2 separate regions of the Homo sapiens genome follow, and region 1 is linked to region 2. The links come from fine-mapping of genetic effects on gene expression. A gene starts in region 2. The other region holds a variant in brackets. All regions are shown on one strand. Distances are from middle to middle.

Evidence for each region. PIP is the estimated chance that this variant, and not a neighbour inherited with it, causes the effect. A credible set is the group of variants that fine-mapping cannot tell apart.
Region 1: its variant is the best candidate, but not a certain one, in a credible set for the expression of ANGEL2 in blood mononuclear cells (TOPMed, PIP 0.76).

The regions. Positions count from the first base shown.
Region 1 is chr1:213,193,577-213,197,847 of GRCh38, reverse strand. The region is part of intron 8 of RPS6KC1 (ribosomal protein S6 kinase C1); the gene reads right to left. Among named protein-coding and RNA genes, the nearest start is that of RPS6KC1, 140 kb to the right of the region's middle. The variant T/C (reference allele first, on the strand shown) is at 2,588.
Region 2 is chr1:213,013,521-213,017,791 of GRCh38, reverse strand. It overlaps ANGEL2 (angel homolog 2), which reads left to right and starts at 1,925. Exons shown (of 9, transcript NM_144567.5): 1 at 1,925-2,179. The coding sequence starts at 2,121. RefSeq lists enhancers at 1,890-2,199, 1,912-2,499, 2,500-3,088.

The sequences.
Region 1 (4,271 bases), 180 kb before region 2:
ATACGGACGCACATAAATTTAAGGAAAAGGGATGGAAAAAGGTATTCCCTGCAAATGAAAGCCGAAAGTAAGCAGGAGTAACTACTTATATAGCAGACAAAACAGACAGATCATATACCTAGAAAACCCTAAAGACTCATCCAAAAAGTTCTTAGATCTGATAAATGAATTCAATAAAGTTTCAGGATATAAAATCAATGTACACAAACCAGCAGCACTTATACACCAACAGTGACCAAGCTGAGAATCAAATCAAGAACACAACACCTTTTGCAACGACTACAAAAAATACATACATACATACATACATACATACATACATACTTAGGAATACACCTAACCAAGGAGGTGAAAGATCTCTACAAGGAAAACTACAAAACACTGCTGAAAGAAATCACAGATGACACGAAAAAATGGAAACACATCCTATCCTGATGGACGGGTAGAATGAATATTGTGAATATGACCATATTGCCAAAAGCAATCTATAAATTCAGTGCAATTCCCACCAAAATGCCATAATCATTCTTCACAGAACTAGAAAAAAAGAGTCCTAAAATTCATATGGAACCAAAAAAGAGCTCACATAGCCAAAACAAGACTAAGCAAAGAGAATAAATCTGGAGGCATCACATTACCCAACTTCAAACTGTACTACAAGGCTATAGTTACCAAAACAGGATAATACTGGTATAAAAACAGGCATGTAGAGGCCGGGCACGGTGGCTCATGCCTGTAATCCCAACACTTTGGGAGGCTGAGGCGGGTGGATCGCCTGAGGTCAAGAGTTCAAGACCAGCCTGACCAACATGGAGAAATCCTGTCTCTACTAAAAATACAAAAACCAGCCAGGCATGGTGGCACATGCCCGTAATCCCAGCTACTCAGGAGGCTGAGGCAGAAGAATTGCTTGAACCCAGGAGGCGGAGGTTGCAGTGAGCCGAGATCGCGCCATTGCACCCCAGCCCGGGCAACGAGAGCAAAATTCCATCTCAAAACAAACAAACAAAAAAAGGCATGTAGACCAATGGAACTTAGAAATAAAGCCAAATATTTACAGCCAACTGATCTTCAACAAAGCAAACAAAAACATGAAGTGGGTAAAGGACACCCTAGTCAACAAATGGTGCTGGGATAATTGACAAACCACATGTAGAAGAATGAAACCAGATCCTCATCTCTCGCCTTACACAAAAGTCAACTCAAGATGCATCAAAGACTTAAATCTAAGACCCGAAACCATAAAAATTCTAGAAGATAACATCAGAAAAACTCTTCTAGACATTAGCTTAGGCAAAGAGTTCATGACCAAGTACCCAAAAGCAAATGTAATAAAAACAAAGATAAATAGATGGGATGTAGTTAAACTAAAAATTTCTGCACAGCAAAAGAAATAATCAGGAGAGTAAACAGACAAGCCAGAGAGGGGGAAAACATATCTGCAAACTATGCAACCCACAAAGGACTAATACGGAGAATCTACAAGGAAGTCAAATAAATCAGCAAGAAAAAAACAAATAATCCCATCAAAAAGTGGGCTAAGGACATGAATAGACAATTCTCAAAAGAAGATATTCAAATAGCCAACAAACATATGAAAAAATGGTCAACATCACAAATTATCAGGGAAATGCAAATGAAAACCACAATGCAATACCACCTTACTCCTGAAAGAATAACCATAATTAAAAAATCAAAAAAAAATAATTTTTTGGTGTGGATGTGGTGAAAAGGGAACACTTCTACACTGCTAGTGGAAATGTAAACTAGTATAACCATTATCGAAAACAGCATGGAGATTCTTTAAAGAACTAACAGTAGAACTAACATTTGATCCAGCAACCTGAGTACTGGGTATCTACCCAGAGGAAAAGAAGTCATTATATGAAAACGACACTTGCACACACATTTATAACAGCACAATTTGCAATTGCAAAAATATGAAGCCAGCCTACGTGCCCATTACCAACAAGTAGATAAAGAAAATATGGTATATATATACACACACACACACACACACACACACCATGGAATACTACTCAGCCATAAAAATAATAAAATAATGGCATTCACAGCAACCTGGATGGAGTTGGAGACCATTATTCTAAGTGAAGTAACTCAGGAATAGAAAACCAAACATCATACGTTCTCACTTATAAGTAGGAGCTAAGTTATGAAGACGCAACAGTATAAGTATGATATAATGACCTCTGAGGACTCAGGAGAAAGGCTGGAAGGGCAGTGAGGGAGAAAAGACTATACAATGGGTACAGTATACAATGCTCAGGTGATAGATGCACCAAAATCTCAGAAATCACCACTAAAGAACTTATTCATGGAACCAAACACGACCTGTTCTCCAAAAACTATTGAAATAATTTTAAAAGACAGACCAATAAACACGTTACGAATTTTTAAAACTTTTTATTTCAGAAATAATTGTAGAGTCACTAGAAAGTTGCAAACATTGTACAGAAAATTCCCACGTACCTTCCATTAAGTTTTCTCTAAGGGCTACATTGTATGTATCTACAGTATACTATTATAGGCAGAAAATTGACACTGGTATTATGTGTGTACATATTAA[T/C]AGTTCTATGTCATCTTATCAATTGTATACATTCTCATAACCACAAGCACAATCAAGACCCAGAAGTGTTCCACCAGGATGCTCACTCTGTGATTCTCCTGTTAAATAAATGTGTTTGCCTTTTCTCCAAAAGGGACAAAAACAAAAAAACTAGAAAATTAAAAAACAAAAGTGTTGCATCACCACAAACCTCTCCCTGCTGCTATCCCTTGCAAATCACCCCCTAACACACACACACCCTTCTCTCCTCCACCATCTCTAATCTAAACACTGGCATCCATAGATCTGTTCTCCATTTCCATAATTTTGTCATTTTAAGAATGTTATATAAACCAGCAGTCACCAACCTTTTTGGCATCAGGGACCAGTTTCATGGAAGACAACTCTTCCACAGACTAGTGGGGGTAATGGTTTTGGGATGAAACTGTTCCACCTCAGACAATTTCTCTTGGGGACAGGGGGTACATGTAGGGCATGGTTTTGAGATGATACTGTTCTACCTCAGATTATCAGGCATTAAGAGTCTCATAAGCAGCACGCAACCTAGAACCCTCGCATTCACAGTTCACAATAGGGTTTGCGCTCCTATGAGAATCTAGTGTTACCACTAATCTGACAGCAGGCAGAGCTCAGGTGGTAAATGCTCACTTGCCTGCTGTTCACCTCCTACTGTGAGGCCCGGTTCCTAACAGGCGATAGAGTGACACCTGTCTGTGGCCCAGGGATGGGGGACCCCTGGGTTATAAGGCAGTACTTGCAAGCCTCCTGGTAACTTCAAATCAAAAAACTTACCATAGATACACAAAAAGTAAGAAGCAAGAAATTAAATCATACCATCAGAGAAAAATCACATTCACTAACAGGAATACAGGAAGGAAGGAAAAAAGGAAAGACCACAAAATCACCAGAAAACAAAATGGCAGAAGTACGTCCTAAACTATCAACAATAACATTGAACATAAACAGATTAAACTCTCCAATGAGAAGACACAGAGTGGCTGAATGGATTTTAAAAAACCCAATGCTGCTTTGCCTACAAGAAAACCACTTCACCTATAAAGACACACAGGCGGAAAATAAAGAGATGGAAAAAGATACTCCATGCCAATGGAAACCATGCAGAGCAGAAGTAGCTATATTTACATCAGACAAAATAGATTTCAAGACAAACTATAAGAAGACACAAAGGTAATTATATAATGATAAAGGGGTCAATCCAGCAAGAGGATGTAATAATTGTAAATATATATGCACCCAGCACTGGAGCACCCAGATATATAAAGCAAATATTATTAGAGCTGAAGAAATAGACCCCAAAACAATAATAACCGTAGGCTGGGCATGGTGGCTCACTCCTCCAATCCCAGCACATTTGGAGGCTGAGATGGGCAGATCGCTTGAATCCAGGAGTTTGAGACTAGCCTGGGCAACATGGCAAAACCCCATATCTACAAAAAATGCAAAGCTAGCTAGGCATGGTATTGCGCACCTATAGTCCCAGCTACTCAGGAGGCTGAGGTGGGAGGATCGTTTAAGCGTGGAGGTTGCAGTAAGCCGAGATCTTGCCGCCACACTCCAGCCTGGGTGACGTAGTGAGACTCCATCAGAAAAAATAAAAATAAAAACTAAAAAAAACTATAGACCTCAATACCCCACTTTCAGCATCAGACATATACTTCAGACA
Region 2 (4,271 bases):
GGCATTCTCTGCCTTTTTGTTTCAGCTCTCATGCTATACCATAGTGTCCCCTTGTTGCCAGGGCTGGAGTACAGTGACACTATCTTGGTTCACTGCAGCCTCGCCCTCTCGGGCTAAAGTAATCCTTTCACCTCAAATTCTGGAGTAGCTGGGACTACAGACGAGAGCCACCATGCCCGGCTAATTTTTGTATTTTTTGTAGGGACGGGGTTTCGCCATGTTGTCCAGTGTGGTCTTGAACTCCCTGGCTGAAGCGATCCAGCCGCCTTGGCCTCCCATATTGCTGGGATTACAGGCGTGAGCCATCAGGACCAAGTGTCCTTTTCACATTCCATTTAGTGATATGTTTTTCACGTTTTTGTACTTTTTGTTGATGTTGCTGTTTAAAATGGTCCCCAAGCGTTGTGCTGTATAGTGCTCCTAAGCACAAGAAGGCTGTCATGAGCCTTGCAGAGAAAATAGCAGTGTTAGATAAGCTTTGTTGAGGTATGAATTATAGTGCTGTTGACTGAGTTCAATGTTAATGAATCAACAATATATATTAAATAAGATGTCTTTAAGCGGAAACACACATACAACAAAACTATGTATTGATTAAGTTGATGAAAATGCGACCAGAGGCTTACAGGATCCTAATCCTGTATTTCCCTTAGGAGTAATGATTCAGTATTTACTAATTCAGTGTTTCCAGCAACTTTACAGAACCTAACTACTGCAAATAACAAGAATCAATTACATACTGAGGGAAAGGTTTTTTTCAAATACACTTTACTTCCTTTTATGCACCAGGGATAAGAAAAGCCTTCCCAAGAAATTACCACTGTTTCAAAGAGCCTATAAAAGCAGTGCTCCTGCCTTCTAGTATCCTTTTCCCCTCTACTCTCCACACTTTATTCTTTCTCGGTTTCTCTCTTCCTGTTTCTTGCAGGGTCTCCACTTAAATAATGTCTTTCAACAATCTACAGTCCTATAATACATTTAATAAAGGTGGACACACAAGACATACAAGTACTTTTTTTTTTTTTTTTTTTTTTTTTGAGACGGAGTCTCGCTCTGTCGCCCAGGCTGGAGTGCAGTGGCTCGATCTCTGCTCACTGCAAGCTCTGCCTCCCAGGTTCACGCCATTCTCCTGCCTCAGGCTCCCGAGTAGCTGGGACCACAGGCGCCCGCCACCACGCCCGGCTAATTCTTTGTATGTTTAGTAGAGACGGGGTTTCACCGTGTTAGCCAGGATGGTCTCGATCTCCTGACCTCGTGATCCGCCCGCCTTGGCCTCCCAGAGTGCTGGGATTACAGGCGTGAGCCACCGCGCCCGGCCCATACACGTACATTTTAAAGTGAGAGCTATGGCTGTGCTTCCGCAACATTAATTGCAAAATTCTGTGGTACCTCAGTTCCATGGGCACCCAGAGGATGCGTTGTTCAGCCTCAGCTGGGAATCTGCACTTTGGGCAATTAAAAATTTTCACTGCTCTGTTTATTTCTGCCGGGCGCGGTAGCTCACTCCTGTAATCCCAGCACTTTGGGAGGCCGAGGCGGGCGAATCACTTGAGGTCAGGAGTTCGAAACCAGCCTGGCCAACATGGTGCAACCCTGTCTCTACTAAAAATTCAAAAATTAGCCGGGTGTGGTGGCTCATGCCTGTAATCCCAGCTACTTGGCAGGCTGAGGCAGGAGAATCGCTTGAACCCGGGAGGTGGAGGTTGCAGTGAGCCGAGATCGTGCCATTGCACTACAGCCTGGGCGACAAGAGCGAAACTCCATCTCAAAAAAAAAAAAAGAAAGAAAGAAAGAAAAAGAAAAAAAAGAAAGTTTATTTCTGTTTCTTTAAGACGAAGTTCGGGTGTTTTGCCCTCTTCAGAAATGGTTGCACGCGCGTCCCACGCTCTGCGCATGCTCCTTGAGCAGAATTCCGGGTTAAGGCATTCAGGGACTCTGACTGCGCAAGATGGAGTGTAGGCCGGCCGGCGAGACTGCACCTCCCAGCATGCCTTGCAGCCAGGACTGGAGTCGGTACTTAAGAGTGATGGGGTTCCCTAGATACTTTAGGCCGTCGCATCGATTATAGAGATTGAGGTGGAACCCGGGGCCTGGGAACTGGACGCACGCGGAGGGCGAAGATGGAAGCCTGGCGCTGTGTGAGGAAGGGCTACGGCCACTGTGTGGTGGGAAGAGGCCGGTCAGTAGGGCTGGGTACTCGGAGGGAGGAGAGAGGGGCGGGCGGCCTGAAAGAGCGGGCGGGCGTCCGGGACTAACCCGGGGCGGGGCGGGGCGGGCTAGGGGTGGAAGGAAGAGGAAGAGGGTCTGGGCGATGGTGCATCCGGGACGAGCCTCCAGAGACCAAGCGGGATAGGTAAACCCGCCGCGCAGCTGGCGGGACGCTGGGCCAACGAGGTCTGGGGTCTTGGCGCGGAGTTCATGGGCCGCCGGCCAGGCTTGTGCCAGTGGCTTTGGATCCCTGGCCTGCTTCCCCCAACCCAGCCTCCAGACCAGCGCTGGCCTGCTCCACACACTCCGCAGCACCGTCCCGGGAACCGAGCGTCGGCGGGGAGGCCGCCTCTCCGCAGTAGGTCTCGGCGGGCCTGATCCCTTGGAGGCGCGTGTGTGGCACACGCCCAGGAGGGGCTTGATTTTTGTTGATGTGTTAGTGTCTTTCAAACTTTAGTCACTTGTATGTCATCCCTTACTGTTATGGCCAAGTTCTTGTTTCACGTGTATTATTTACTGGATATTTTTCTTTAAATTGACTCAGTTTTTTTTAAAAAGCACTTCAGTAGGTGCTGCCCACATTAGCTTCACCCTAAGCAGTGTCTGCAGAGTCTTGGATTTGATGTGCGATTATGTTTTTTCCTAATAAACTAACATAAGTATTTAGAAATTACAATCAAGTAATTTAACTGTGTACTCTGTGAAACCGACTCGTGTACCACCCACCACGCTTGGGAAACACAGCATGTATTATTACATAAGCGATGGGGATTTGGTTGTAACTCCCATAGGCCTGGGACTTGATGGTAATTCAGTTCAACAATGTTTCCTGAGTACCAGCTGTTTGCCAGGCACTGTGCTAGGCACTTGTGAAGATAACGGAATTAAAATGAATAAGACGGTTCTGTTCTGGCCCTGAAGGAGCTTAACATCTTAAGAGAAAAAAAAGTCTGAATAAATAACTGCAAATATAGATAATAGCTTTTGTAGTACAAGTATTATATTTCAATACAGTGGCTTATTAGCATAGAAAATGCATGGACCAAGTGCCCAAATTCCTATGGCTTTCAGAGTTATCACAAAGCAGTGTAGAATGCCCATGTTATGCCTTTAAAGATTTACAATTAAGTAGATTTTAGAGAACAACTAGCGAATACTTAAACTGTAAAAATTATAATAAAAATTTAAATGCTGTTAAAACGAGAATAACAGCGTATAAAGTTAAATAACAGTAAACGCAACTTAAACAAAATTCCCTTAGGGATGGGAGCGCACATTATTGATGCTGTGGTAGAAATGTAGCTGTTAAGAATTTTGGAGGAAAGGATAAAAGTCCTTCTCTGAATCTTAACATTTTGCCAAAGTAGTATAGTGAGAGGAACATGGTGCTTTATTAAGCTGAAGTGTTTCTTGAGAGCCTGAGAGCAACATACCTATTAAAAATGTTAGCGCCACTTTGGAGATGTTTTGGATGATGGGTTAAATTGAAGCTGTTGGTTTGGAGTGTTGGTGCATTCGTAGTACGTCATCCCCATCCTCTTTCATTTCCCCCAACGAGAATCATGCTTAAAAAAGAATGGAGAAATAAATTATCCACCCGTTGATTAGTAAGAGAAGTAGTTTTGTGAATTTATGAAGTTGTGGATAGGCTTTTGTTTTCCTAACTATACAAGTGTTTGGAAAAATCTGCCCTTGGTATAAAAAACTGTTCAGAAACTTGTTATTACTCCAAGTTGGAGGAGAGGTTTACTTTAATTGTAGTGTGATATGAGTTCCTTATTCGATTTCAGTATAATACTTGTTGTGTATTTTATTTTCTCATTGAGTTTTGTAGGTGCTTGAAAGCTACTCTGAATATCATTTTGATAGTTGATTCATCTCTCAGTTGAACTATGTACATTTTCAGGGGTATGTGGTATTTTGGGAGCCTGGGAGGCATTCTGTGTTAAGTATTCAGAATACCATTCATGGTTTTTTAGGACGAGAGTATTGAGATATTGATGCCAATAGGTAAATCATGGGTGCTTTCCTCTTCATCCTTCACAGATTTAGCAGCCAGATTT